2 separate regions of the Homo sapiens genome follow, and region 1 is linked to region 2. Evidence: fine-mapped expression QTL. A gene starts in region 2. The other region holds a variant in brackets. All regions are shown on one strand. Distances are between the middles of the regions.

Region 1 (15,774 bases), 220 kb before region 2:
TGCCTGAACTGCAGTGTGACCCTCCTCAACTGAGCCCTCTTTCCACTCAAGGGCTGCTTTATCCAGAAGCCACAAGCTGCCAACACTCACCCCTGGAGGCAGCAGGGGCATGGGGGTGGGCAGGGAGGAGGTCCAGGAACTGGGGGTCTGGGGGCCACCATTCCAGGATCCACACATGGTGAAGGGAAACCCCAGGGCCAAAGACCCAAGTGTTGTCACCCCCACCTCAACTCTCCAGGGGCCCTCTCAGGATTTGTGCATTGGCTAATAGCTTCCAAAGCTGTGTGTCCCAGGAAAGCTGCACAACCTCTCTGTGTCTCAGCTCCCTTATCTGTAAAGTGAGGATAATAATAGTGCCCACCCCAAAGGGTTGTGTTACGTGGATTAAACAAGTTAGAGCCAGGCATGTAATCACCACTCTCTATGGATGAGCTACTGTTGTCTGCTCATACGGCAGGACAATCTCATTGAGTAGTCAGGGCGAGATCATGACCCCATCTGCAGCTCAGTGAGGGCTTCTCTGTGTCACTCAGCTCCTGGAGGCAGCATGGACTCCCCATCTGACCCCAAATCCGGTGACTCGGACTATATTCTTAATAACATCTTTTATTAATTTTGCAAGAGGAAAAAAATAGAAATTTATTTTAGAGTTAAAGCTTGTACAGCCTTTTTTTCCCCTCCTAAATTGCACAGTACATACGATTATTATAAACATCAGCTGCGGTTCTGGGAGTGAGCTTGTGTCGTGTTAGTGCCATCTCCCTGACAAATCTGACCTGTACCCACATCTCAGCTGGGAAGGAGTAGCTGGGCCTCCCTTTAATGCAGCGGCACTGGTTTGGGTCACAAGAGCTGGTTTGATCAACCCCTGACTCCCCCTGGCGGGAGGTGCTCGTCACATCTGGGAGCTGAGCAGAGGTGCCGGGGGCTTGGAAGCTGGAGAAATGATGGATCTTTCTCCAGGAGAAACAATTCTTATCTTCACATCAGCCCCGTGCTCCAAATGAAAAGCGCGTTTGCATAGCTGCTCGAGCCCAGGCTGCTAAGCTCATGAAGTATTTGCCGGGGCTCTCGGTTGCATAGGAACGTACCTCGAGTACAGTACTGCGGCGGGCCGGGCTGGGCGCCAGAAAAACAACGGATTAATATTTGCAACGAGAAATTACCCACTACTGGGAAACCAATTAGGTCCCTGATCCGAGCTTGTTACATCGATGCATATAGATGCGTTCTGGGCTTCACTCGGCTGGGGGTGCAAGGCACATTTCCAACTCGCTGGGAAGTGGCTGAAGGGGGAGAAGGGGTGGGGGCCTGGGAAAGGAGCACCTCACTGCCTGCCTCCAAGGGCACAGGGGCAGAGACAGAAAGCAGCCACATCAGTGAGCACAGCCGTGATCAGACCAGGAGGGACATGTGGCAGAGAGTGCAGGGAGGGCCTGCTCAAGGGTGAGGGGAGATGGGGGATTGTCCTCAGTGTTCCCCAACACCTGCATCCAGAGGGCACTGGGGTGAGTTCTTCTGGCCCTCTGGGGTCTGGAGCTGCCAGCCTGCTGGCCACCCACCCACCCTTCCTGGCCCGGCAGCAGCACGCAGATGATACCCTGGCCTGCCAGAGTGGGCCCAGCTCTTGCCAAGGTGGATGGCGGGTGGCCCAGCTGACTTCCTTCCCTCTGCAGGATGCACACAGCCTTGGCCAATCCCTTATCAGGCCCGATGAGAGGAGAGAGGCCCCTATACCGGGATGAGAGAGGGTCTTGTGGACCCCTGTAACCAGGAAACTACCCCAACCTCTCAGCCAGCTCCACCAGTCCCCAAATGAGACAAGGATGCGCAGGGGATGGGGGGTGTTGGCCGCTGAAGCTCAGGTTTCTGAAGGCAGTCTCCCTGGGCAGTGCCCTGCTTACTGGAGTTGCGGGGTAGGGTCTGGTCTCCCACTGTCCTGCTCAGCCATTCTCTGGGCCCTCTGAGGCTGGATGGGATGCCTCCCCACCCCGTCATTGTCCTGTTCTGAGTCAGGGTCAGCCCAGGCCCTAGTGGTCATGGGCCCTGCTTTGCTGGGTCTCACAGCAGAGGCATGAAGGCGGGTGTCCTGGGCTCCCTGTGGCCAACCCAGAACTGCAGGGGATCTCTTTGCCCTGCAGCCACAGCCATCTGTCACTCTGGTAGTATCCAGGGCTGTCCTCCCGAGTCCCCTCTTCCCAGCGGGCTCCCCTCAACACTGTGGTTCGCTTCCAGCTCCTGGGACTGAGGGTGAGGGACGCAGGCACTGAGTGGGGCTGCTGACGGAGCCCACCATAGTGGGAGGACCAGCTCTCCCTCCTTCACCAGTCAGCAGCGCCGTCGTCTCGTCTCCTTCTCGCTGATGCAGGTTTTGGGACGTAAGGCTGTCATGACAGGGAACAGAGGGACCAGAGTTACTAAGTCTCAAACCCTGGAGGGGTGCCCCACACTCCCCAGTGAAATCCAGCAGCCTGGGTTGCCATTCAAGGCCCTTGGAAAAGTCCCTGCTCTCGGGGCGCCTGGCACGCTGGCCCCTTCCCTCCGCCTGGAGCAGGCTCTGCCACAACACCCCTCTCAGCCTTTGCCCAGGCTGCCTGGCACACTCCTCACATCCTTTAGGATCCAGCTCAAACATCACCTCCTCCGGGAAGCCCTCACCTTGGGCATCCTCTATTGGTTTCCCACGGCCCGGGGCAAACCCCTTTAACATGGTGCTCTGTCCCTGACTGCTTCCCCACTCTGTGCCCACGACACTTAGATTCAGGAAGCTCCACTGTGTTACAGGTGCCTGCAAGAAGATGGAAGCATGTTGCTCCCCTGGTTCCATCCTCTTCAGTCCCTCCCTAGGCCTTTGGGCAGGCTCCTGGGCAGAGGAGAGCGGTCTAGGGGCAGGCAGGGGTGAGGGTGGGGGTGCAAGGCCACCAGCTCCTTCTATATTCAGACCGAGCTCCCAAGGCACAATGCTCTGGGCAGAGAAACGCCACTGACCTGGGTCAACAACGCTCTGCTTCCGTTTCGCGTTGGTAATGATTTGGTTTTCATTCATCATCTGGACATCTTGATCCTCGGCCTGATTACTGAGGGTAGGAAGGAAACACAAGATTCGATCAGGCTCCTGGCCGTGTGTCCCAGCCATCCATCCTCCTTAGGGCTGGTGGGGAGGCCATGGGGCCGGCTGGGGCCCTACCTGATGGTGGTGTGTTTCTCCTGGTGGCGGATGTCCCTGTCCTCGGTGAAGAGGATGGTGTGGTAGGGCACGGTGGGCTCACATGTGGGCAGGATGCCCCCCACCAGGTGGCTCACCATGGCCAGGATCCCATTGTACACAAGCAGGTCGTCCACCAGGAGCTGCAGGGACACGGGGCAGGACTCATGGGTCCCCCTCGTCCCTCCCACGTTGACCTTGGGCAGAACGCGTTACTGCTCTGAGCCAAGGCTTTCTCCTCGGGAAGACGGGGCTGTCAGGAACAAGCGCCTACTGTGTGCTGTGTCTGCCTTGTGATTTCAGATCTTCACAACCATTGGGAAAGGCAGGAGCTATCAGCATGCATTGCAGATGAGGAAATTGAGGCCCGAGGGGCTTTAATACCATTAGCACAAGTGGCAGAGCTGGAGGCAAACTTGGGTCTCTGGTATCCAGGGTCCCTGTTTTCCCCATCCCAGGGTCACCGCCCCAAACCAGTGGGATTCTAGAGGAAAAGACGAAAGAAAACCCACTTTCTATTTGCTCAGGGTGACACTGAAATCACTGCCAGCAGGTTCTGAATTCATGGTTGGGTGGGAAATTCGCCTGCATCTGACGACCAGGCATTTGTGTTGAGGGTTGCAACAGAGAGAAGTAAATCAAACTGCGACAAATGATAATTGCCGGCGGCCTAATTACCAACGAGCATAATTATCTCAAAAAACTCAGCTAATAAGTACTTACGCCAAACTCCTTCACCCCTCGATGGGGTGTTTTCGCATAATTCCACAGTTTGATCATTGACACGGTGGTAGGCAGATCGAAAATCACATAAACCCGGTTCACCTGTCAGAGAGCGGCACTAATTAAAACAGGCATGTTTGGAAACAGAGGCGCTTGGCTGGGCTGGGGGTGCCAGGCGTGGGCTGGGGTGAGCGGTGGTGCCCAAGGCAGCGCCTGCCACGTGGGCCAGCCTGGAGTTCCGCCCCCTTTCATCTCCTCGAAGCCCATCTTGAGTCAGGTCACGTGTGGCTGCATTTGCAACAAACCGCTGAGCTGGCTTTTGGAGGGCCTGTGTTCTTGGGCCTGTCGGAGCCCTCATTTAAATGCCAGTGGAGGATTGGGAACATCCTCGGCCCTCCCCCACGTCCCCTCAGGTCAGGCCCAGAAATAGTCTAGAGCCCCATGAGCTAAAGGGACAGTCCCCAACTCGGGTTGAGCACCAGCCATGGTGATCAGCATCTGACCCTGTCTGTCCTTTCCCCAAACCATCACTGAGAAGCAACGCCAAGGTGCTGCTGGACAATGTCCAGGGCGTGTCTGTGAACCTCCGCTGGGGGAGTAAAAAGGGGGCTGTCTAGATCGGGGCAGAATCCAGTGGGAAAAGTGGGACGGAGCAGCCTCAAACAGCCCTCCCTCTCCCCACCCCCAACCAAAGCTCTCAGATATTAGGGGAGGCCCTCCCTTGCAAGACAGAATCAAGAAATAAGCATTCCACACTGGCCACAGACTGCAGGCTCAGTCCTGCCCCAGGCCCTGGTCCCCAGCCTGTGACCATCCTCAGAATATGCCAAGAGGGAGTGCGGCTGCTCGGGTAGGGCCAGCCTCCTGGCTGGACCATGGAAACAATAAAGGTCAGGGTGAGGGTCTCCAAACTCAGTTGCCTGTGAGGCTCAAGCAGATACAGATGTTGGAGTCCAGCCGCGAGAGCAACAGCTGAAGTCGCCGCACCCCAAAAGGCCTTCCAGTGCTAGACAATGGAAAATACCCGCTGGCCGTCAGTGGGTGGCCTGAGTCTCAGGGAGGACAGAGCTCTGTTGCCCCCTCTGCAATGGGGCAGGGGAAGCTGAGGACGCTCAATAGGGGGGGTCTAATTTTAGGGTGGCCTTTGGAAAACTTCCGTCATAGAATTGCTGATGCTGTACCTTCCTGTGTTTTCAGAGAAAAAGGTGCCCCCGATCCCCCACTCAGTCCCATGGCATGGACAAGGGACACATCCCTAGTCATATGGCTGCCAAGAACCCGCTGTGCATCTCTACCAGGCACCTGGCCCTGGGCTGAGAGGCTGCAGGGGGGCTGACCACCCCGTCCATGCCCTCTCCCCTTCCTCTCCACCACAACCAACCACGTCTTCTCACCATGAGGCCTCAGAGCTAAAAGCTAAGCAGGACCCAGTGCAAGATTTGAGATCTGGGAAACTGAGTCAGTTGGTCGGAAGAGCTGACCAGGCCAATTTAGGGCCAGAAGGAGGGCAGGGCGGCCGTACTGGGGTCATCTACCTGGTGATGTAGGAAGGGGCAGAAACCGTGAGTGTGCGGAGAGCTGGGTGGGGAGGAAGAGGGCACAGTGGCTGCAAAGCCAGGCAGAGCAGAGAACCAGAGAGGGCTGCCTGCAGGGACCCAGGACGCCCAAGCCCTCAGGCAGTTGTGCTGGGGTTCCTGGCTTCAGATTCCCATGGGACCCCTTTCGCCCCAGGTGTCCACTTATAAAAGAGAAAGAACTGCTGGCCTGGAAGAGCTGACCCCATCAGGCAAGTTAGCAAAGACCTAAACCTTTCTGACAGCTCCCAAGCATCTTGGCTTGAGATTAACTTGACCTGGAAGAAAGACGTGTCACTGAGACCAGGGAAAGAAAGTCCCCCTGCCCGCCTGAGGGCCAGGAGCTGCGGTGGCCGCTGCCGGGAACCCACCAGGCCCGGCAGGATGGGAGCCAGCCACATGTGCCGGCCATCACTGGTGTCGTTCACTTGGTCGATGAGCTTGTCTGGGGTGCGGACGTCCCCGCCCACACCCTCCAGGGAGTTCACGCTGTCGGGGAAGGCCGCAATATCTGAGGAGACGTCTAAGTTGCCATAACCCAAATCTGTGTGCTCGGGGCTGCCAGCCACCCTCAGGCTGATGGCGTGGCTCGGGGGACTCTGGGGCTGGCAGGGCTGATGCTTTGGGCAGC[C/T]GCAGCAGTGACAGCTGAATTGGACGTGTCCTGGGGAAACGGGGAGTGCCGGGCCCAAGGGGAGCAGGTGTGTCTGGAGAGGTGGTCAGTTTCAAGTAGAGAGAGAAGGAAACCACACAGAAGGCCAGCTGAAAAAGAGACGTTGCAGGGAACTGCCAGAGCTGGGGACGTAAAATGTTGCTGCTGCTTGAGAGGGTGGAGGGCAAGCTCTGCGGAGGTTTTCTTTTGGAAGGGAATGGGGCGGTGGCTGGATTCTACCCTGGCATGTGAGTATCATGCCGAGCCTCTCTTCCTGGTCAGTGTGGAAGGACCTCGGAGCAGCTGGACCCAGCTAATGTGATCTGCAGAACCCAGCTTCTAGCTCTGCCTCTGCCATTATGACCTGTGAGGGCGTGGGCAAGTCACAGGTCAACCCTGGGCCTGTTTTCCCATCTGTAAAATGGGTATAAAAACCTCCAGCTCCCAGGATGGATGTGAGGATCTCAGAGTGCACCAGATGTGAGCACTTTGGTAAAATCAATGAAACTTTATAGCTTCGAGGAGTCGCTAATAATGATCTAAAACATCAAGAATCATTCATCCCAGCTGAGGAGGGTGGTGGCACCAGGGGAAGGCAGAAAAGGATCCAACTGGAAGCCAGGGACCCCAAACAGATGCAAGGCAGGCTTTGGGGTTCGACTTGCCCTGGTATTTCCCTAACTGTGGTGGGCCAGGGATCACAGATTCAAGATCCGAGGGGGCCAGGCAGGTTACATGAAAGAGGCAGGATAGCCTACTGCTTGGTCAAGAGCTGGTGTCTGGACACTCACTGGCTGTGTGACATTAGGCAAGTTACTCAATCTCTCTGTGTCTCAGGCTCCTCATCTGTAAAATGGGGATAACAGCAGCAATCACCTCACAAGATTGTTGTGAGGGCAGATGAGGTAGCACAGAGTGAGCCCTGAGAAAATATTAGCAGTGAGTTTCGGGGCCTGGTAGATAACAATGGGAGGAGTGGGGGGCTAAGGTAGACCAGAAGGATATGCTTGGGGAGAAATGGCAACAGATAACCAGGTCCAGCCATTGTCACTATGCATAATCAAGGGCCTGTGTTGCCAATTTCTCAGGGGAAACCAGAGATCAGGGTTTTCATGTGAAACCTCGTGATTTCTAAAAATATTAGCAACTCATTTTAAAATGCACTGGGCTAACAGTCTGCAAATTCTGGTGTGGGCATACTATGCACAAAGGGTTCCATACTTAAGAAATTCAGGACACACTGAGTTGAACACAGTGCAACAGGCTTCTCCCTGCAGACCTTGTCAGAGCCTTTGGAACTCCAAAGTATCTGTGGTTCTCCGAGAAGGGGGCGCTATAGTTGGCAGCCTCTCTCAATTCACTGGACCACAGGACTCTGGTTTGTGGAATTCCTGCTCCTGATGTCTTAGCAGGCAGGGCTGGGAGCTGCTCTCTGCTGCCCGTCCCCAAGGGTCAGCATCTGACTATAAGCAAAGCCCCCTGGGCTCTGGTTCCTAGAGGGCCATTTCCCTCTGCACACAAGGCTTCTGCCCCGTTCCCGACCCTCCCATGCTCCCTTCAGTCTGGGTGGAGCCCACTCCTGTCCTACAAAGGATACTGTTTTCCGACAAGGGGATTTTTTCTCCTCGCTCGTCATACAGCTCCAGGCCGGTGAGGCCGATGTAGTAGGGGTCGCCCCAGCTGGTGAGAAGCTGAAACTGGAAAATGACTGGGACACTTTATTAAGGAAAAGAAGGCTTAATTTTTTTTTTTCAGAATATAGTAAAACAATGGCAAAGATAAGAGGAATTGTTTTGGGTTTATGTTGATGAATGAGAGAAAAACATTTTTCTCTTATTGCAACTAGAGCCTATCAAAATATAGGTAGCATCACATTTTCTTAAATTGCATGTGTGTGCATGTGTGTGTGTGTGTGCATGTGAGTGTTCATGTGTGTGTATGCATGCATGTGTGCACGTGTGCGTGTGCCCGTGTGTGTGTGTATTAGGAATTCAAAGCCTTCCTCTAGGCCCCAGGAGACAGGACGGGAGGAGAGGGTGCTCTCCAGGGAGCAGGCAGGATGGGGAAACATCTGTGTCACAAACTGATTGTATGGTATTGAACAAAATGCTCCAGTTTCCCTGGTTGTGAAATGACAAGAACAGAGTACCTGCAACCTCCTCCATCCCTTTCAAGTAAACAGGAGGCTAAGAAGGGGACACATAAACCTCACAGCGCCAGGGGCCATGGGCCGGGGCAAGGAGACCACCATTGCTGCTGAAGTCCCACGTGCAGAGCTGGGCATCAAGCCTTTCCTCAGCCCTGTGCTCTGCTCACTCCCCGCACTCCCAGGAGCAGGCCGGGTGGCTCTCAGATGATGGCATAGCCAGAGACAGTGCTTCCAGAACTGGCTGGCTAGAGAGCGGGCCTTAGAGCCAGGCTGCCTGGGTTCACCTCCCCTGGGCCCTACCCCTTCCCACCTGTGCAGCCTTGGGCAAATTACTGAGCCTCTCTGTGCCTCAGTTTTCCTAGCTGTGAAATGGGAATGATAGTAGTACCAGAGTGCTGGGCTCTGCTGCCTGGGCTAAAGTACAGTGGTGCAATCAGAGCTCACTGCAGCCTCGAACTCCTGGGCTCAAAAGGTCCTCCCACCTCAGCCTCCAAGTAGCTTGGACTATGGGCATGTACCACCAGCTAATTTATTTATTTTTTTTTAAGATATGGAGTCTCATTATGTTGCCCAGGCTAGTCTCAAACTCCTGGCCCCAAGCAATCCAACCTCCTTGGTCTCCTAAAGCGCTGGGATTACAGGTGTGAGCTATTGTGCCTGGATTGCCAAGTTATTTCTATCTTCACCTCCTCCCTGGCTGGTTCCAGGACACCCCCCTTCCCCAGTCCAGCCACTGGGGTCAGTGCCAGCTTCTCTAGCCCCTCCCAGCTGGAGTCCTGGGTGCTGCCCCCTCCAGCCTCAGCAGGAACTAGCCTGGCTGCCCCAGTTCCAGCAGCTCCTAGTGGCCCTGAGGACCCAGGAGGCCTCCTATCCTCTGCCTTGGTTTCCTTGCATGGAGTTCCAGCTGCCTCATCTGTGGCCGCCTGAAACCCTGGCTGGGCAGTTGCGGCCCAGGCGCTGCCTCGGGGCCCAGAATGTGCTGGTGGGGCGGGAGGAGAAGGATACAGCCACAGGGCATCAGCGGTGCCTCGTAGTCCATGCTTGCACACTCCAGGCTTCTCATGTCCAGCCTGAAAAAGCACAAAACAGCACCATGAAGAAGCTCACGACGGCCCAGAATCACCAGCCAGTTACCCCCTAGGTAACAGCCTTTGAAGAAACATGGCAGTTTAGCGTTCCCTAGGATGCAGCAGGGAAAAGAGAGATGAGGCCCCTGCTCGTGTGGAGTTCCCGCTCTAGATGACAGTCATTGCCAATGCTGGCAGGATGCTGTGCCAGGGAGGCACGGGGCTCAGGGCTTTCCTGAAATGGACTCTTTTATTCCTCAACACAACCCTAGGAGGTGGGTATTTTTAGATGCTTGGGATGTGGATGAGGAAACTGGAACACGGAGAAGTGAGGTCACTTGCTCAAGGCCATGCAGCTGGTAGTGGCAGAACCGGGATGGGACGTGAGGTTGCCTGGTACCACTGCCCCCTTTCTTAACCAACCCCCTCTATGTCTTTAAACACAAGGAGGGTCCACGCTGTGCCGACAGCCAGGACGGGGTGACAGGGCAGAGGGACTGGGTGGGGCAGGCTGCCTCAGGGAGTGCTCTGGGAAGGCCTCCAGGAGGAGGCAGCCTTGGGAAGTGCCAGAGCTGAACCTTCCACGCAGAGGAGCAGCAGAGCAAAGGCCCAAGGTGGGAAGTCACTGGGCTGCTGGTGTTTGCCCCAGAAAGCGGCCAGAGGGCTGGAGTCTGGGGCAGGATGGGGAGAGGGAAGTGAGAGGAGGCTGGAAGGCAGGCACAGCCCTGATGGCTTTGGCTTCATGATCTTCAGCACCTGGCTCCACCAGCCAGAGCCTCAGTTCCCACATCTGTAAAACGGGCATCATACTGGCTAGGTCAAAGGGTGGCTGGAAGGATTTCCCAAAGGACACATCAAAGTGTTCACACAGCTGGCCCTCGGGAAGGATCCTCTCCTCCACGGCCCTCCTGACGGGGCCCCTCTCCCTGGTCCGCTGTCAGTGCCCTCCAGCCCTAGCCTGGTTCTCTTCCATTTCAAGGGCAATGTTACAATTAAATGACTTCCTAGTGACCAGCCCAGCCAGCCAACCCCGCTACAGTGCAGGGAAACTCATTTTGTTTCAAGAGCTTGGCCTCTGGCGTTTGGACATCAGGGGGTTTCAATGAGTAAACTTAACGTGGCATTTACAAATCGTTATGAACTTAATGCAGCTGAGACTGGGGCCGAGAAATCCCAGTGAATCCATGAAATATTAAGCTCTATTTTTCTCCTTGAATCTTTCTAAATCAGGAACACAGAAACGGGAGAAGGAAGGCCCTTCCCCAAACTGGCCGGCAGGCATTTCTGGAATGGAGGCAGGCTGTAGCCTCTTTTCTCAGCAGGAAACGCAATGAAGCATTTAAAATCTTCAGCACTCCAGACTGTGAAAAACCCAAATGTCCCCAGACAAGGTAAGTCCATTCCACAGGCTTCCGGTGAGGCTTGGCTGAGCTTTAGAAAATGACTAAGTTGAAAAGCAATGCGTTTGATCATCGTTTCAAAACCCTTTCGGAATGTACATCAGAGCAACTTGCAAAGCAAGCGGGCCCAGGGGCCGGGAGGGGCTGTGTGTGGCGCCCACTTTCTCCTCACCTCCTGGCCGGCTGGGGCAGCAGCTGAGCCCGTAGGTAGTCCACGAAGAGGATTTCTTGAGCAAAATCAAAGTGGCAGTTGCCTGGCCCCTTCCGGATGAGAAAGCCCTCTGGCGGGGAGACGCACAGGCCATCCAGGGAGACGTGGACAATCTTGGCCTGGCAAACAAAAGAAATAACATGACTGAAGGGAGGCAGGCCATGTGGGGACAGAAGCGGTGCTGACGTGACCGGAGCTGCTGGCAGCTGTGCTCACCATGGGGAGCCTTTCGCAGAGCCACCTGACCGAGGTCCATTTCCCATATCAGGTGCTGTGTGGGCGCTGGGCAGGTAGCAGAGGACAAGACAGGCGAGCCCCCTGCTACAGCGGACACTGGTCCACGGCTTTCAGGGGTGGCACGTGACTTGGCCAAGGCCTCGCCCACCTCAACAGCTGCAGCGGCCTGGGGCGGCATGAGATGGAGGTCAAGGGCATGGACTCAGGCGCTTCCATGTGCACCACTAGTAGCTGTGTATGTTACCTACCTTCCCTATGCCTCAATTTCCTCATCTGTTAAATGGGCACGGTCATGAGTTAACCTACGTAAAGTGCCCTAAACAGAGCCTGGCACAAACTGTATACTTCGTGAATGTTAGCCTCTATCACTCCTTTTTCAACCCCTGGCTCACACATCAATACCCCTCTGGGAGCTCTCCCTTAGGACAGGACAGGCCTCTTTCTGATCTTCCTTCTCATGGCACTGAGCTCATCCTTTTTGGGCCTGTATGCCTAGCAGCATCCCAGTGGCTTCTGGGTCTCTCTTATGGCAGAGGTTCTGGCTGGACCACCTCTCTGTCTGCCTCAGGGCCTGGAACACAGCAGATGCTTTCTAAGAGCTTGCAGGATTCACGTGGATTTGAGCCAACATCTCTCCCTGTTCTAGCCAGAGTTCTCCAGCCAGATGGCCAGGTTCTACTGGTCAGTTTCAAAGTCCTAATGGTAGAGTCTGAGGCGGCCCAGCCACCACCTGCTCTATGGGCAGGGAGGGGCAACAGCCATCACTCTCTGATTTCAGATTTTGGAGCCTGGTTCTCCTCGACACCTTAGCCCACATTCGTGGTCAGCAACATGGGTGCAGCTGTTGATCCAACTGGTGCCTTTCCTCTAGGGAGAGGCAGAGGCGCTCCTCCTGCAGAAAGGAAGGGAGGAAGGGTCCCTGACCTGGCTCTCATGTGCCCCTGGGGCCCCTCGTTCCTTCAGCATTTTGGGAGCCCCTCTATGTCAGTTACAGGACAAGTAAACCTGAAGTGTGGTGCTACCTGGCTTCGGGCGTGGCTGTCACTAGAACTTGGTCCCTGTCCTCCATCTCTCCATCTGCTTTCCTCAAGGGGGATTCCTACCTGGGCCCCCTGAGCTGAACTTGAAACATGGCCGGGCCCATCAGCATGACTCCTGGGGTTTTGCTGGCTTGCCTGGAAAGGGGAGCTTTCTCTTCTGCTGGGCTTGGAGCTAGCAGGACATAAGCCTGGAGCTGCCAGAGTGTGCCCTGGACAGAGTCGCCCAAAAGTAGATTCAGTGATGGCAAAGCAGAGGCCCAGGAAGCCCCTGTCCATCCTCCAGGGCCAACACCTCCTCCAGGAAGCATCCCTGACTTCCCTGGGCAGAGCTGGCCACATGTCCTCTGCTCATTCCCTTCGAGGTGACCTCTATCACCACCTCCATCTTATAGGGAAGGAAGCTAAACTTCACAGGGACTAAGTGATTTGCCCGAGGGCCACTGAAGGGATTTGAAGCCCCAAGTCCAGGAGTCCAGGGCCCTGGCTTCCAACCACATGTCAGGGACCCCTGGTGCTCGGGAAGGCCTTTTGGGGTGTGGGATCTGAGTCAAAGCACCCATTTCACTGCAGTGGGGGTCTCCCATCTCAGGCCACGTGCCCATTCCCCCCCACCCCCACCTCATCCCACTGTAGCCATTGTCTGGCTGGTGGGGCCCAGACCTGTGAGATGGGAACTCAGCCCAACATCCCCAGATGGTGAATTCAGGTCACAGAAGCTCTACCAGACAGACTGTGATTTGCTCAAGGGAATTTTAAGGCCCAAAGGCACAACTTGAGGCAGAAGGCTGTTTTTTAATGTCAATATATCTGACTTCTTCAATGTGTTGAACCCAGGGGAGCGTTCATAGAGACACAGGGCGGCATTGGGAGGGTCTGTGACCGGCCTGCTCAGAGGAGCATGCTGGCTAAGCTCCTGCTACACGGGGAGGGCCAGGGGCTGCCGATCCTGCTGTAAGATGTGACACAATTCTTTTTTTCATTTTTCTTTCTTTGAGATGGTGTCTTGCTCTGTCACCCAGGCTAGAGTGCAATGATGAGATCATAGCTCACTGCAGCCTCAACCTGGGCTCAAGAGATCCTCCTGCCTTAGCCTCCTGAATGGCTGGGACTACAGGTGTGTGCCACTAAGCCTGCCTATTTTTTTGGTAGAGATGGGGGTCTCTCTGTATTGCCCAGGCTGGTCTAGAACTCCTGGGCTCAAGCCATCCTCCAACTTTAGCCTCCCAAAGTACTGGGATTACAGGCGTGAGCCTCTACACCTGGTCTGTGATACAATTCCTAAGGCCCTAGAATAAATTCCATGGTGGGTATATGGTGGGGAGCCCAGATCTGGGGATCACCTGAGGCTGAGTCCTGGCTTTGTCAACTGTTACCTGGCAACGGTGATGCCAATCCGCCGTGGCAGGTGTTATTCCCTCCTCATTTTATAGATGAGGAGACAGGCCCAGGGAAGGCAGGCCACGTGCCAGAGGTTACGCAGCTGGTTGGGTCCAAGCTGAGACTCAGACTCAGGCCCTCCTGATAGTAGGGCCCTAGCTGAATTGCTACCTTTCGGTGGCCTCATTGTCACTTTTACATGACTGGAGGGCACCCATTCAGTCACCTGAGGCCAGAAAAGCCAGAGAAAAGGGCTCTTCCGAGGCTCTCTTCTTCATTCCCACCGAGGCTGAGTCTCAGAAGCGCCCCCCTGCTGCTTCTCACTCAGCAAAACATCACACGGAAATCACAATGTGGGCTCCAGGTCTGGCTGGCCAAGGTGGAGACTCCAGCTGTGTGGCCTTGGATGGGCAAGTGAACCTTCCTGGACCTCAGTTTTAGACCCTAAGAAATGGGGGTAATCACACCCACCTCCCATTGGCTGGAATGAGAATCCAGTGAAACAATGAATGCCCGTGAAGCCCTCAGCAGAGGCCTGGCCACCCGAGCACTCAAGGGACTTGAGGGACAAAACTGACCATGGCAAGCTGGGGCCTGGACCTGCCTAGGACCCCCCAGCACCAGGAGAAACGGTGCTGTGCAGTTCCCTGGAAATGCCCTGCGCTCTTTAGCCTGCATTTGCCATTTGCAGAAGGAAACAGCAGCTCTCTCTCTCCCTGGACATAACGCCCCCAGCTCCGTTTGGAAAATTCTGGAGGATTTATGCTCCTCTCTGGCTGCCACGCCAGCCATTCATCAAGGTGCTGCTTCCCTGATGCTGGACTGAGCACGGCCACTGCTCCCCAGCTTACCCCGCGATAGGTGTCCTCGGGAGATTTATTGTAGTTCCAGAAGCGCAGGCCTGCGATGCTTTCGGCCCTGTCCAGGCGGATCGTGACCACATGGTCCAGCCCCGGCGAGAAGGGGATCAGCCACATATGCTCATCCTCCATGGTGATGTTGGTGCCATCAATTAACCTGCAGCAATGGGGACGGAGCGGCAGGGGGGCGGCTCAGTGGGCACAGGAGGCATCACAGTGGGGCCCCCACCCCCTCGGCCCCAAGTACGTCCCCACTGCCTGGCACTAGCCTGGCTGTGTCAGGCTTGTTAAGGGGAGGTGTGACTGCTGAGAACAACAGTCAGAAGTCGTCTCTCATCTATGAAATGAGACATTTTTTAAAAGAAAAAAAAAAGGCTATGCTGTTAAAGGTGCAGAAAAGCAATCATCAGGGTTTTTGTTTTTTTTTTAAAAGGGAAAATGAACCATTTTTCAGAATCCTTTAGCCCAGTGATCCCATTTCTGGGATTTTCTTCCCCAGAAGGAAAATGTATTCAATATATGGGAAAGGCTATCCGAACCAAGATGCTCATTACAGTGTTATTTACAATAGCTTAAAAAAGGATAACAACCTAAAAGATCTCAAAATCAGGAAATGGTTAAGTAAATTTCACAGGGGTTAAGGTGCCATCATGAGGACACTGCAGTCACATGGAGGAGGCAGGACACTGATTATAAAGCTGAGAAATGAGGACAAGGACCAGGAGAGAGTGTGCAAAAGTGAAAAACATAATTGGGTCAGAGGGTATGGAGGTGAGTATTTTTCTCAAGTTTCCAAACTTTCTGTAAATTTGCTGTGTTGGCTTTACAGCATAGTTGGAAAGAAGTGTAGCCCTTCCTTCCCATGCTGGGGGAGAGAGGTACAAAAGCACCAGGTGAGCTCTGCAGCTCTTGGCTTGGAACAAGTAGAAGGAGGGGCAGGTGACTGTGGGAGCTGCTCTGGCTGGACCATGCTCTGTGACCGCATGGCCTGGATATCCCAGGGAAGCCTCTAACCTGTAGGAGGGAGCCCCTCATGCTCTTCCCAGCTGGCACTCTGAGCTTGTCACCTCAGCCCTATCGCACTCCTGTCCTGGCCAGTTTCTGGTTCCCTTGCTTGGGACATCCTGTTCATCCTCAAGTGGGCCTGTGTTTGTCCCAAGGACAATCGTGCCTCTCGCTTCCCCGGACTGCCCAGCATGCCTCAGCCCAGGCCTCAGGCCCTTGTCCTCGTGGCTCTGGCCCACGTGTCTGGCACTGCCATTCAGAAGCCTGGTCCTGGAAA
Region 2 (14,596 bases):
CTGGACTGCAGTGGCGCGATCTCAGCTCACTGCAACCTCTGCCTCCCAGGTTCAAGCGATTCTCCTGCCTCAGCCTCCTGAATAGCTGGGATTACAGGCACCCGCCACCACGCCCGGCTAATTTTTGTATTTTTAGTGGAGACGGGGTTTCACCATGTTGGCCAGGCTAGTCTTGAACTCCTGACCTCGTGATCTGCCCGCCTCAGTCTCCCAAAGTGTTGGGATTGCAGGCGTGAGCCACCACACCTGGATTTTTTATTTATTTATTTTTTTTATACAGAGTCTCGCTCTGTCGCCCAGGCTGGTGTGCAGTGGCGCGATCTAGGCTCACTGCAACCTTTGCCTCCTGGATTCAAATGATTCTCCCACCTCAGTCTCCCAGGAAGCTGGGATTATAGGCAGGTGCCACCATGCCTGGCTAATTTCTGTATTTTTACTAGAGACGGGGTTTCACCATGTTGGCCAGGCTGTTCTCAAACTTCTGACCTCAAGTGATCCGCCTGCCTCGGCCTCCCAAAGTGCTGAGATTATAGGTATGAGCCACCATGACCTTACTATTTTTTTTTTTTTTTTGAGACAGGGTCTTGCTCTGTTGCCCAGGCTAGAGTGCAGTGGCATGATCACAGCTCACTGTAGTCTCAACCTCCTGGGCTAAGGTGATCCCACCTCAGCCTCCCGAGTAGCTGAAACCACAGGCATGTGTCAACATGCCCAAATAATTTTTAACAATTTTTTGTAGAGGTGGGGTCTCACCGTGTTGCCCAGGCTGATCTCAAACTCCTGGGCTCAACTGATCCTCCTGCCTCAGCCTCCCAAAGTGCTAGGACTACAGGCATGAGCCACCATGCCTGGCCTGAAATCACTATTTTTGAATATGGAAAAACATATTGATAGACACTGTACAGCGCAGTGTAAAACCTCTGGGTGTGAGAGCAGGTAGGCAAGTGTCTAAAAAGATGAGACTGGAGGGGAGCTAATTCCCCAGAGAAATTCTATACTTCAAGGTGATATGATCCATAGGGCAATTGTTAAAGCTGCAAAGCCCCATGGGACATCAGTAGTCACACTTTCTTACTTTTACATAAAGTGCTCTGCAAACAGTTTCAAGTTCTTCCTTGCAACCAACCACATTGCTCTGCATTAGCCTACTCCCATTTGGAAAGAGAGAAGCAGTCATGGGACCAGATGCTGAGGGAGCTGGGAATGTAGTCAAAACGGGTACCTTTCAAAATGTATATTATTCCATCAGCCCAGTGGCCAGTTCTTCCCCACAGACTCACTCTCCAGGTGTGAGAACCTGGCCACACACTGGCAGTAACAAGGCTGAAATGGGCCTTCCATAACATACTACCAAGTGTAGACCTTATTCGACTGAGTCCTGGCTCTGCTACCTACTAGGTGTGTGGTATAAAACAGACACAATCACAGTATCCCATTGAGCTGTCTCAGGAATCAAATCAGATCTGCCACGGCAACAGTCAGCAAACGTTTCCTGTACAGGCCCAGATAGTAAATATTTTTGGCCCGTGGGCCACATAAGTCTCTTTTACAACTACTCAACTCTGCAAGAAAACAGCCATGGACTATATGTATGTGAAAGGGTGCTGCTGCATTCCAATAAAACTTTATTTACAATAGCAGGCAGTGGGCCACACTGCTTTGGGAAAGGGGAAGACCTCTACAAATATTATCTTCTAAGGACTCCCATGTTGAAATGTAGTCATCTGTTTATGTCTGCTTTCTCACCATACTATGAAGTTTCTAAAGGCAGATAATATATTCCCTTTTTTTCAGATTAAAACAAAAAGAAACTGGGCATGGTGACTCATGCCTGTAATCCCAGCATTTTGGGAGGCCAAGGCAGGCAGATCACTTGAGGTCAGGAGTTCGAAACCAGCCTGGCCAACATATGAAACCCCATCCCTACTAAAAATACAAAAATTAGCCAGGTGTGGTGGCACACACCTGTAATCCCAGCTACTTAGGAGGCTGAGGCAGGAGAATCACTGGAACCCAGGAGGCAGAGGCTGTAGTGAGCTGAGATCGCACCACTGCACTCCAGCCTGGGTGAGAGAACAAGACTCTATCTAAAAACAAAAAAACAAACAAAAAGAATAAGTATAGTCCAGTATGGCATACAAGGAAGTCCACAGGAGTTTTCACAACTGTACAAGTTAATACTAAAGTAGAATTCTAAGTACAAATGCTGACAGGCCTAGGAGTGACAGACACAATGAGAGAAGCCAGTCATTAGACAGGCCCACCTCCCTCTTAAAGGGCAAAGTCTCCACTTAACTCGGGTGGTGGGACAATTGTTGCCATGCAGAATTCTGATTTGGTGTTAACAGACTTTATTGATATTTTCAAGAAAATACCACAATCAGGTATTTATAAGAAATCTGCTCATTTTTCAATGTTGACAACTAATTCAAAAATTTAAAAAACAAAACATTATGAGCCAAATAAACATGCATGTGGGCTGTTTCAGCCCACTTGTGCAAGCTCTGATATAAAGAATTCATTTCCAGCCAGGCATAGTGGCTCATGCCTGTAATCTTAGCAACTTGGGAGGCCAAGGTGGGAGGATCACTTGAGCTCAGGAGATGGAGACCAGCCTGGACAACATAGCAAGACCCCCATCTCCACAAAAAATAAAAAATTAGCTGGGCATGGTGGCACACACCTGTAGTCCCAGCTACTTGGACAGCTGACATGGGACGATCGCTTGAGCCAGGAGATGGACGCACCAGTGAGTTATCTCACCATTGCACTCCAGCCTGGGCAACAGAGCAAGACTCTGTCTCAAAAAAAAAAAAAAAAAAATCCACACCTGTAACCGTAGCACTTTAGGAGGCCAAGGGGTAGGGTTGGATCACCTAAGGTCAGGAGTTCGAGACCAGCCTGGGCAACATGGTGAAACCCCGTCTGTACTAAAAATGCAAAAATTAGTTGGGCGTGGTGGCATGTGCCTGTAATCCCAGCTACCCAGGAGGCTGAGGCAGCAGAATCACTGGAACTCGGGAGGCGGAGGATGCAGTAAGCCAAGATCGCGCCACTGTACTCCAGCCTGGGCTACAAAGTGAGACTCCACCTCAAAAAAAAAAAAAAAAATCAACTTCACAGAAAAATGTCAAGAATAGTACAATGAATTCCCATATCGCCTTCACCTGGATTCAATCTTACTCATTTTGGCATCTCTGAATTCCAATGCACGGAAGGCACTGAAATGTTGAATCATGGAATGAATCTCATAAGGAAAAATAAGCAAAACATTATGGGCCGACTTCCTATAAGTTAAAGTGACAGGAGGAACGAACTCTGAAAAAATCTGAGAGAAAAGAAACTAATCAGATAGAAGGATTGGAACAAGAAGAAAACAGAACAGACACAAAGAGTCTATGGGATGTATGTTTATTTCACCTGCTGAATGCTTGCTTTGTTTTATTGCATTTGATTGTTATTTTATTATTTTTTTTGCTGGGTTTAAGTAGTAAGAGAAACAGACAAATCACCAAGAAGCCAGGTAAATACCACACAAGGACAGGAGAGACCAGCTAAACCGATGGTGTACTCTCAGCAAAACCTTCCTAATTCAACCATCACCTGTTTGCAGTCTGGGATTATTTGGACAAGTGAGGCTAAATATCATCTTGGCATTATTAATTATTTGAGAAAGTTTGCTAAGCAAATGAACAGTATAAACAAGGGAAATGTTGAATATTTGCTCTAGGGGAGCAGTGAAAAGCAAATGAACAACTTCCAAATCCTTTCTAATTATATCAATGTGCTGAACTTTTGTCTAATTATTATGTTCCTTGAAAATGAAATAGAATTTTTTTTCCTAAACCATTTCATATTTTTAAAGTACTGGGGAAAATTCAACTTTAACAGAAAGGCGAACATTTTCATAGGCAGAAAACACACACTGCCAATGTACCTTCATGGAATAAAAAATGTCAAACATTGGATTTTCTCTTAAGCAAAGAGTGTGCTAATTACAAAAGTTATCATCTGCTAGAGAGCTTCATCAGCACGCTTCCCTCTTCTGTCAACTGTGTGGAATAAGTCTGCCTATTTGCAGATAATGATAACAACAGCTACTATATAGGAACTTTTTTTTTTTTTTTGAGACAGAGTCTCACTCACTGGCCCAGGCTAGAGTGCGGTGGTGCAATCTCAGCTCACTGCAACCTCCGCCTCCCAGGTTCAAGCAATTCTCTGCCTCAGCCTCCCGAGTATCTGGGATTACAGGCACCCGCCACCACACCTGGCTAATTTTTGTATTTTTAGTAGAGACAGGATTTCACCATCTTGGCCAGGCTGGTCTTGAACTCCTGACCTCGTGATCCACCCATCTCAGCCTCCCAAAGTCAGGCATGAGCCACCGCGCCTGGCTGTAGGAACTTTTTTTTTTTTTGAGACGGAGTTTCGCTCTTGTTGCCCAGGCTGGAGTGCAATGGCGCAATCTCGGCTCACCACAACCTCTGCCTCCCAGATTCAAGCGATTCTCCTGCCTCAGCCCCCCAAGTGGCTGGGATTACAGGCATGCACCATCACACCCAGCTAATTTTGCATTTTTTTAGTAGAGACAGGGTTTCTCCATGTTGGTCAGGCTGGTCTCGAACTTCTGATCTCAGGTGATCTGCCTGCCTCGGCCTTCCAAAGTACTGGGATTACAGGCGTGAGCCACCGCGCCCAGCCAGGAACATTTTTTTATATGCCAGACTTGATGCATTGTTTCATTGAAGCCACAAAACAAGGTAGGCTTCATTATCATGTCCATTTTACTGACAGGAAAACCAAGGCTCAGAGAGGTCAAAGTGTACAGCAGAGATTCAAATCCAGGGCTATCTGGCCCCCAAACCTAAGGACATTACACTGCATCACAGAAACAGATAGGACCTGCCCAAAGTCAAAATCAAAAGGCCAGGGAAAGGGTTGTGAAAAGCTATGGTGATTAAGACATGCCGAATAAACTAAATTACAGTCCAGTTTGGAGGGCATCTGCTAGACATTTAAGCTTTTGTGAACGTAGGAAGTAAACATCTTTCTAATAAGGCCAGGCTTGGCTTACCTAGTTAGTTAGAATCACAATAAGGTATGCTTCACTTTATCCAATAAATAGGTATGTGCCTATAAAATTATGTATAAATCAGGGCCAGGTGCGGTGGCTCATGGCTATAATCCCAGCACTTTGGGAGGCTGAGGCAGGTGGATAACCTGAGGTCAGGAGTTCGAGACCAGCCTGACCAACATGGTGAAACCCCATCTCTACTAACAAAAAACAAAAAAGTTAGCCAGGCGTGGTGGCGTGCACCTGTAATCCCAGCTACTCAGGAGGCTGAGGCAAGAGAATCGCTTGAACCTGGGAGGCAGAGGTTGCAGTGAGCCAAGATCACGCCACTGTACTACAGCCTGGGTGACAGGGCGAGACTCTGTCTCAAAAAAAAAAAAAAAAAAAAAAGTGTAAATCAAAGTTTAAAAAATCAGAACAGAAAATGGGATTCTTTGGAGGTCAAATATGACCCTAGGGTAAACACTTCTGAGAATAAATTTTTCCTTTTGGGGGCCAATCTGAAAATGAACATACCCCTCTACTAGGCTACAATAACGTCCTAAGACTGCAAGTACAGAGATGCTCATTAGAAGGCACAAAGCAGCCTTCCTGAAAATGGACTGTAGCAATGTTTCTCAAAGGTGCAGATCCTGGGAGAAGGAGGGGTCCACAAAGACAAAAGTATTTTAATCATAATTTGAAGAGTATTTCACTGTGTTGAATTTTTTTTCTTTTGAGACAGTCTCACTCTGTTGCCCAGGCTGCAATACAGTGGCATGATCTTGGCTCACTGCAACCTCTGCCTCCTGGGTTCAAGCGATTCTCTTGCCTCAGCCTCCCCCAAGTAGCTGGGACCACAGTTATGTGCCACCATGCCCAGCTAATTTTTGTATTTTTAGTAGAGACAGGGTTTCACCATGTTGGCCAGGCTAGTCTCAAACTCCCGACCTCAGGTGATCGCCCACCTTGGCCTCTCAAAGTGCTGGGATTACAGGCGTGAGCCACCCCATCTGGCTGTGTTGACATTTGTACTTATGACACAAAGCAATGGTGGGTAAAACTGCTTGCAGTCTGAATCAAGGCAATGTTACCACAATGTACTAGAAACCTTCCCTCCTTCCTTCCTCCCTCCCTTCTTCCATCCCTCCCTTCTTTCCTCCTTCCTTTCTCTCTCCTCTCCCTCCCTTCTTTCCTTCCTTCCTTTCTCTCTCCTCTCTCCCCCCACCCCACCCCCTGCTCTCTCTCTCTCTAGACAAGGTCTTTTTGCCCAGGCTGGAGTGCAGTGGCACAGTCATGGCTCACTGTAGCCTCAACCTCCTAAGCTCAACTGATCCTGAGTGGCTGGGACTACAGGCACGAGCCACTATACCTGTCTAATTTTTTACTTTTTACAGAGATGGGGTCTCACTAAGTTGCCCAGGCTGGTCTTGACCTCCTGGGCTCAAGTGATCCCCACACCTCAGTCTCCTTAGCAGCTAGAACCACAGGTGCATGCTACCATGCCTGACTATTATTTATTTATTTATTTATTTTATTTATTTATTTAGTAGAGATGGAGTCTCACTATGTTGACGAAGCTGGTCTTGAATTTCTGGGCTGAAGAGATCCTCTTGTCTTGGCCTCCCAAAGCGGTGGGACTATAGGCGTGAGCCACTGAACCCAACCATCAGGACATTCTTAAATAAAAATAATTGTTTGTTTGTTTTAAATGTGAGTACATGGCAGTAAATAAAATAATAGACAAATTTTGGTTATTCAGTCTTGGGAATTTGGCAGAAATTTTCTCAAATATGAAATAAGTGAGTCTGTCACTTCAAGGAAACAGCTGACAATATTTGCTGCCAATGTTAAAATTCAAGCTGTCAAGTGAAAACAAGTTGAAAACTTGTTTCCATTACCTTGAGTTTGATAGTTTCCTAATACTTAAACTCCTTTTTAAAATGAAATAGGTGGTGATATTAACAAATGTGATTTTTTAAATACCGTATAATGGCATCTGAAAGGTCAACGTTTAGATTTGCATAACTCACTGAACCAACATTTTCTAAACGACCAATGGCTGATGTTATAAAACCATATATGGGTAAAGCAGCCAATGAAAGGGCAAGATAGACCAATGGATTTTAATGTAACACAGTATAAAAGTTCACCTATAAGGCTTCAGATGACACACTGTGACTAACATTTAAGAAACTGCCACTTGTGGCCTGGCATGGTTCTTCATGCCTGTAATCCCAGCACTTTGGGAGGCCAAGGCGGGCGGATCACCTGAGGTTGGCAGTTTGAGACCAGCCTGACCAACATAGAGAAACCCCATCTCTACTAAAAGTACAAAATTAGCTGAGCGTGGTGGCACATGCCTGTAATCCCAGCTACTTGGGAGGCTGAGGCAGGAGAATCGCTTGAACCCGGGAGGCGGAGGTTGCGGTGAGCCGAGATCAGGCCATTGCACTCCAGCCTGGGCAACGACGGCAAAACTCCCGTCTCAAAAAAAAAAAAAAAAAAAAAAAACTGCCACTTGCAGGCCAGGCATGGTGGCTCACGTCTGTAATCCCAGCACTTTGGGAAATGGAGGCAGGCTGATCACCTGAGGTCAGGAGTTTGCGACCAGCTGGCCAACATGGGGAAACCCCATGTCTACTAAAAATAAAAAAAATTAGCTGGGCATGGTGGTTCACACCTGTGATCCCAGCTACTCGGGAGGTTGAGGCAGGAGAATCGCTTGAACCCAGCAGGCAGAGGTTGCAGTGAGCTGAGATCGTGCCACTGCACTCCAGCCTGGGCGACAGTGAGACTTTTTCTCAAAAAAAAAAAAAAAAAGAAAAAAGAAACTGGCATTTGCTAAATTTTGTATAGTATGAAAGGAGAGTGTCTACAGTTATCTGAAAAGGCAATTAAAATGTTTCTCTCTGCTCCAATTATATATTTGTATGAGGCCAAATTTTCTTCATACACACCAGCCAAAACAGCATAACAAAAAACAGTTTGAATCCTGAAGCAGAAATGAGAGTAGTTTTTTCTATTTCTATTGAATAAACTTGAAAAAACATAAAATAATGCTACTCTTCCTATTAATTTTTTGGAGGCAAATGTAATTGTTTTCCATTAAAAATATTATTTATGTTCAGAAGTAATGGGTTTATTGTTGTTGGAGTTTTTTTGAGACAGGGTCTAGCTATGTTGCCCAGGCTGGTCTTGAACTCCTGAGCTCAAGCAATCCACCCACTTCAGCCTCCCAAACTGCTGGGATCACAGGTGTGAGGCACTGCACATGGCCAATTATTATTATGATTATTATGAGCCACTGCACCTGGCCAATTATTATTATTATTATTGGGTTTTTTTGAGACAGAGTCTCGCCCTGTTGCCCAGGCTGGAGTGCAGTGGCAAGATCTCGGCTTCAAATGATTCTCCTGCCTCAGCCTTCCAAGTAGCTGGGATTACAGACATGTGTCACCACGTCCGGCTAAGTTTTAGTAGAGACAAGGTTTCACCATGTTGGCCAGGCTGGTCTCGAACTCCTGACCTCAAGTGATCCACCTGCCTTGGCCTTCCAGAGTGCTAGGATTACAGGCACGAGTCCATGCCCGGCCCAATTTTTATTATTTTTAAAGGAACTAATTAATGGACATCTTAAGATTTTCCCAGTTTAAATCTTCGATATGGTAAATATCATAAATATAAATAAACAAAGCTCTTTGAGGTAAGAGCATACAGGGGTCCCAAGGCTTAAAAGGTTTGAGGACTGATGTTCTATAGCAACATTACATTGACCTTTCCAGAAGGCAAAATGGTAAAGCACATTTTATAGTACCTCTAAAGTACAAAGGGAAAAGATATATTTTAAGCATATGACAGAATGTTCAATTAAAAACATTTTCTCCACACTACATTCAGTGAATATAAAAAGAATGTGGATTCCCCAGGAACAAATTCCCGAGAAGTGAGGGACAGTGCTGTAATTAGAAAAATGATCTGGACTCTAGCCCAGACCCTACCAGTCTCTCTAGACTTTAGTCTTCCCATCTGCAAAGTGAGATATCAGAATAGCCTATTTTCCATTTGCTTCCAATTGTCAATACCATGACTCTAATCAGGGATCCCTAAATGGGGGCCCACAAGCTGTCTCTGGCCTTCAGAGTGACTGGCCAACCCTGTTTTTGAGAAGTACCCCAAGAGGACAATCAGCTGGTGCTTGGTGAGCAGCTTTCCTTTCAGGTGAGGAATTGATTTTCAGTTACAGCCTCAATCCGGCTCACTAGACTCTCCTCTGCAGACATCTGCATTTACAACCTCTGGAATAAAGGGACCCTCAAAACCGGTCCAAATCTCAAGCTCCATAATTCAGCTCCAGAGACAGGGTGTCTGGGTTTCTCACTCACTCTGCTACATGCTGGTTGTTTGACTTTGGGCAAGTTCCTTAACACCTCTGAGCCTCAGTTTCATCATCTGTAAAATGGAACAACGCTGAACTCAAAAGGCTGGTATGAAGCTTAGCGAGGTGTTGCCCAAGAGTACTTACAGAGTTCTTGGTACTGGAAAGCACTTTGTTAAAGGGAGCTATTATTATTAACGCCAAGGCACAGAAAGGGAGTATTTCCTAAACTCCCTTCACCCCCCACACCAATTCCCTTTCCCAGCACCTGACGATTGCACTCCCACGATCAAGCTTGTTTTCATATCAACTCCCAAATCCGACAGTTCCACATCCCAACATTCACAAGACCCTCCTCAGACCTCTACTTCTCCTTCCCCACCCTACATCCCTTCACTGAGCTCCCGGCCAGTACCGGTTTCCTTCACGACCACAGCCGAGCAGAATGGTCACAGCACTGACCACTCCCCCAGGCTCTCCTCCGCGTTCCAGACCACTAAGCCTCCCTATCCCTCATTTCGGAGACCCCCTTGGGTCAGGAAGTGGTGGTCCAGGGGTTCATGGCCTAGGATTCTGCCCAAAGCGCGGTCGGGAGGGATGGGAGAATAACAGCCCGACCTCCCGGAGGGGCCCACAGACACTCACCGTCCATCCCTAGAGGCGGCGGTTCCGGGAGCTCGAACCGGAAGCGGCCTCTACACTGTTTGCAGTTCCCCTGGTTACTGCGGGGCCCCGGACCAATGACGGTGGAGCTCCACTTACTGAGCCCGCCCCCGGGGAGTGACGTCATGCCGGCGCGCTGGAACTCCTCCTCCGAACCCTGGGTCTGACCCACCTCCCCGGGCCCCGGATCGTTGTGCGCAGGCGCGATGGACCAAGGCCCTTGGCGGTGCGTTGCGCATGCGCCCCGGGCGCCGCCGACTGAAGTAGCAATGGACGCGCTGGAGTCGTTGTTGGACGAAGTCGCTCTGGAGGGGCTCGATGGCCTGTGTCTGCCAGCGCTGTGGAGCCGGCTGGAGACGCGAGTGCCGCCCTTCCCGCTGCCTTTGGAACCCTGCACGCAGGAGTTTCTCTGGCGGGCCCTCGCCACGCACCCGGGCATCAGCTTCTATGAGGAGCCTCGGGAGCGACCCGACCTACAGCTCCAGGACCGGTCAGCGGGCGGCCTGGCCTGGCGGGCGGGCGGGCGGGCGCAGGGCCCGGGGGCTGATGGAGCTGGGGGCAGGGCGGGGGAATGGAGTGGGGCTGTGCAAGTACCGGAGGCCTGTTGATTGAGTTGGGGCACGGCGGTAAGGCTAATCTGGGGTCCCTCAGGCCTGGCAGGGCCCTGGAGTCCGATGGAGTTGGCGGGGGGAGGGGGAGAATCTAGTGATGTCCCGTTTTGTCCCTGTGTGTGTTTTGGGGTAATGGCGAACAGGATTGGGGATATTCTTCAGGCTTAAAAGAATGTTTCCTTTACATTGGAGGATAGGATTAGAGCAGGAAAGACACTTTAGAGCCAGACTGGAGACTCCTGAGATCAACAGACCCTCATGGTATATTCATTCGGTGCAGATAGCCTAGGGCAACTCGAGATCTGCGTATCAGGACAATTAGCGATAATGCTAAAAGCTGACATTTATCAGGGACTTCATGGGTGAGGTGCTGTTCTTTTTTTTCTTTTTTGAGATAGAGTCTCTCTCTGTGGCCCAGGCTGGAGTGCAGTGGCGCGATCTTGGCTCACTGCAACCTCCGTCCGCCTCCCAGGTTCAAGCGATTCTCGTGCCTCAGCCTCCTGAGTAACTGGGATTACAGGCATGTTCCACCACGCCCGGCTAATTTTTGCATTTTTAGTAGGTATGGGGTGTCATCATGTTGGCCAGGCTGGTCGCGAACTCCTGACCTCAGACAATCCGCACCTCTCGGCCTCCCAAAGTGCTGTGATTACAGGCGTGAGCCACGGCGCCCGGCCACATTGCTGTTCTAAGAATCTATTCTAGAAGCTTTAGGAGCTTAAACTCACTTGATCCTCACTTGATTAAACTCCGTTAAACAGGAGATTAAATTCACTTGATCCTCACCTATGAGGTAGGTGCTGTTATCGTCCTCATTTTACAGAGGAAGACACTGAGTCACAGAGAGGGATTATGTAACCTAAGGTTCTGGGGGCAATAAGTGACTAAGAATTGATTTGAACCCAGGCTATTTTCAGCGTCTGTGCTCTTAAGCCATATTGTGAGGGTCAGGGGAGGTTCCAAGAGGTAATAATGTCCAAGACAGGCCGGGTGCAGCAGCTCATGCCTGCAATCCCAGTACTTTGGGAGGCTGAGGTGGATGGGTCACAAGGTCGGCAGTTCAAGACCCGCCTGACCAACGTGGTGAAACCCTATCTCTACTAAAAATACAAAAATTAGCCTGGCGTGGTGGCGCATGCCTGTATCCCAGCTACTCAGGAGGCTGAGGCAGGAGAATCACTTGAACCTGGGAGACAGAGGTTTCAGTGAGCTGAGATTCAGCCATTGCACTCCAGCCTGGGTGACAGAGTGAGACTCTGTCTCAAAAATAAAATAAAATAATGTTCGAGACAAAACTTAAAGGTTGGATTTAGGCAGCCAGTTGGCAAAGAGGACTGTTGGACAGAGAACAGCAAATGTGAAGTAAGTGGCTGAAGTGTGGAATTGGAGGTAGGGAATGAGGAATAGCTAGGACTGTGCTAAGATCCTTAATACAACATGTTATTTAATTTTTACAGAAACCTTAGGAGATGGGTAATATTCTCCCCATTTTCCTGAAGAGAAAATCGAGGCCCTGAGGGGTCAAGTGGCATGCTAAAAGTCAACTAGCAAGGGAAGAACCCAGACTTTGAGGAAGGTCTGAGTTCAGATTCCAGCCAAATTGGACTGGAATCAAGTCTTTTAACCTACTTAAAGAGTTTATCAGCCTGTAATCCCAGCACTTTGAGAGGCAGAGGTGGGCGGATAACTTGAGGTCAGGAGTTCAAGACCAGTCCAGCCAACATGGTGAAACCCCATGTCTACTAAAAATACAAAAATTAGCTGGGCGTGGTGGTAGACGCCTGAAATCCCAGCTAGGTGGAGGCTGCAGTGAGCCGAGATTGTGCCACTGCACTCCAGCCTGGGTGACAGAGGGAGAATCCATCTCAAAAAAAAAGCTTATCCTTTATCAAAAGGACAGTGAGAAGTCACTGAAGAGAGGGTCAGACTAGGGGCAAAGAGTGAAGTTGAGAGATTTTTAGTAATCTAGTCATGGTCTGGCTTACCATGGTGGGCGTGGGGATGAAGAGCACAGGCAGTCAAGACATAGTAGGCTGCTGTTTGGGCACCTGAGCGAACCCTGATTCTCATCTCTGAGGCTGGGAACACGGAAGAACAGCGTGGGGGTTGAGTCTGGGGGAGGTGGGGACTTTGCTGAAGAGACATGTGACACATTTAGCTTCAGGTTCTTTTGAGTTGTCCAAGTGAAGAGTCTTAATTAGTAAACATCTGGCTTCGTGGGAGTGAAAGCAGGCCAGAGGGAGGGACTGAGCTAGACATCTGTGAGTCATTCCTAGCAGCTGGTAATTAAAGCAGCTGGCTAAGATCAGCCCTAAGAGAGAGTGTAGTGTGGTTGGAGGTCTTGAGATATAGCTCTGCAGTGCACCTACATTTCAAGGCTGGATGGAGGGTGAGGGACTTTCAAAAGAAGACTGAGGCGGTGTGGCTGGAGAGGTAGAGGACAGTCAGGTCAGAGTGGTGTTCTGGAAGTTTGGGAGGAGACAGGATCATTTAAGAACGGAGGGTTGGGCTGGGTGTGGTGAATCATGCCTGTAATCCCAGCACTTTGGGAGGCCGAGGCAGGTGGATCATTTGGCCAACATCGTGAAACCCTCTCTCTACTAAAAATACAAAAATTAGCTGGGTGTGGTGGCAGGTGCCTGTGATCCCAGCTACTAGGGAGGCTGAGGCAGGAGAATCGCTTGAACCCAGAAGGTAGAGGTTGCAGTGAGCCGAGATTGCGCCACTGCACTCCAGCCTGGGTGACAAGATCAAAACTCAAGTCTTAAAAAAAAGGAATGGAGGGTTAAATGGTGCAGATAACACAGAGGGGGCAAGGAAGGAAAGGGCTGAAACATGTACATAGGATTTAGCCGCAATTAGACTAGTGTAGGATATGAGTGAGATTTCAAAATAAAACTCGACAAGCAGCCAGGCAAGGTGGCTCACACCTGTAATCCTAGCACTTTGCAAGGCTGAAGTGGGCAGATTACTTGAGCCCGGTAGTTCAAGACCAATCTGGGCAACATAGTGAGGGGAAAAAAAATTATATATATATATATGTATGTATTTTTTTTTTTTTTCAAAAAAAAAAAAACTTGACAAGCTTGGCTAACTGCATGAAAGAAGCACAAATGAAAAATGTCTCCATGGTGTTGTAAGAGGCACATGGAAGAAAGCGGTAGTAAGAGGGGAAAGAAGGGACTTAATTGGAGCTGGGGAGAGGTAATCATATTTGGAATGGGAGGCATTTAATAGACAAGTGAAGACATTGGATCTGTATTTGGAGAAAAAGGACTGAGGATTCAAAGGTGAGACTTGTTAACATGCAGGCGGTAATGCAAACCATGAAAATGGGTTAGGATATTAGAGAGATAACTAAGGAGAGATGGAAAGATGAGATCTTAAAGGGAGGAAAGCTTTGGCCACTTGTGGTGGCTCCCACCTGTAATCTCAGCACTTTGGGAAGCTGAGGCGGGTGGATCACCGAGGTCAGGAGTTCGAGACCACCCTGACCAACATGGTGAACCGTCATCTCTACTAAAAATACAAAATTAGCCGGGCGTGGTGGCACACCCCTATAATCCCAGCTCCTTGGGAGGCTCAGGCAGGAGAATTGCTTGAACCTGGGAAGTGGAGGTTGCAGTGAGCCAAGATCATGCCATTGGACTCTAGCCTGGGCAACAAGAGCAAAACTCCATCTCAAAAAAGCGGAGGAAAGCCTTGAATCATTTCGTCCAACTTGGTGGTTTGGAGACTGAGTACCAGATTTGGAGGGAAACAAAAGCCCATGACTTGGCCAATAAGGAGGTTTAGGTCCCAGCACCCAGCTTCTGGAATAGTCTGGGGAGTCCTGGAAAGGTCTGCGTTCTGTGGGATAGAAAGGCAGGAACCTGCTTGTCAAGATTATCT

What was found.
Region 1: its variant is fine-mapped to the expression of KATNIP in whole blood (TOPMed, PIP 0.94).

Annotation. Positions count from the first base shown.
Region 1 is chr16:27,765,184-27,780,957 of GRCh38, reverse strand. It overlaps KATNIP (katanin interacting protein), which reads right to left. Exons shown (of 28, transcript NM_015202.5): 20 at 14,484-14,649; 21 at 10,940-11,097; 22 at 9,306-9,370; 23 at 7,749-7,859; 24 at 5,874-6,013; 25 at 3,929-4,030; 26 at 3,188-3,348; 27 at 2,989-3,077; 28 at 614-2,384. The coding sequence ends at 2,329. Among named protein-coding and RNA genes, the nearest start is that of KATNIP, 220 kb to the right of the region's middle. RefSeq lists enhancers at 5,983-6,483, 8,720-9,485, 10,322-11,521. The variant C/T (reference allele first, on the strand shown) is at 6,134.
Region 2 is chr16:27,545,658-27,560,253 of GRCh38, reverse strand. KATNIP (katanin interacting protein) reads right to left here and starts at 10,110. Exons shown (of 28, transcript NM_015202.5): 1 at 10,077-10,110. The coding sequence starts at 10,083. GTF3C1 (general transcription factor IIIC subunit 1) reads left to right here and starts at 10,341. Exons shown (of 37, transcript NM_001520.4): 1 at 10,341-10,584. The coding sequence starts at 10,364. RefSeq lists enhancers at 10,245-10,354, 10,365-10,444.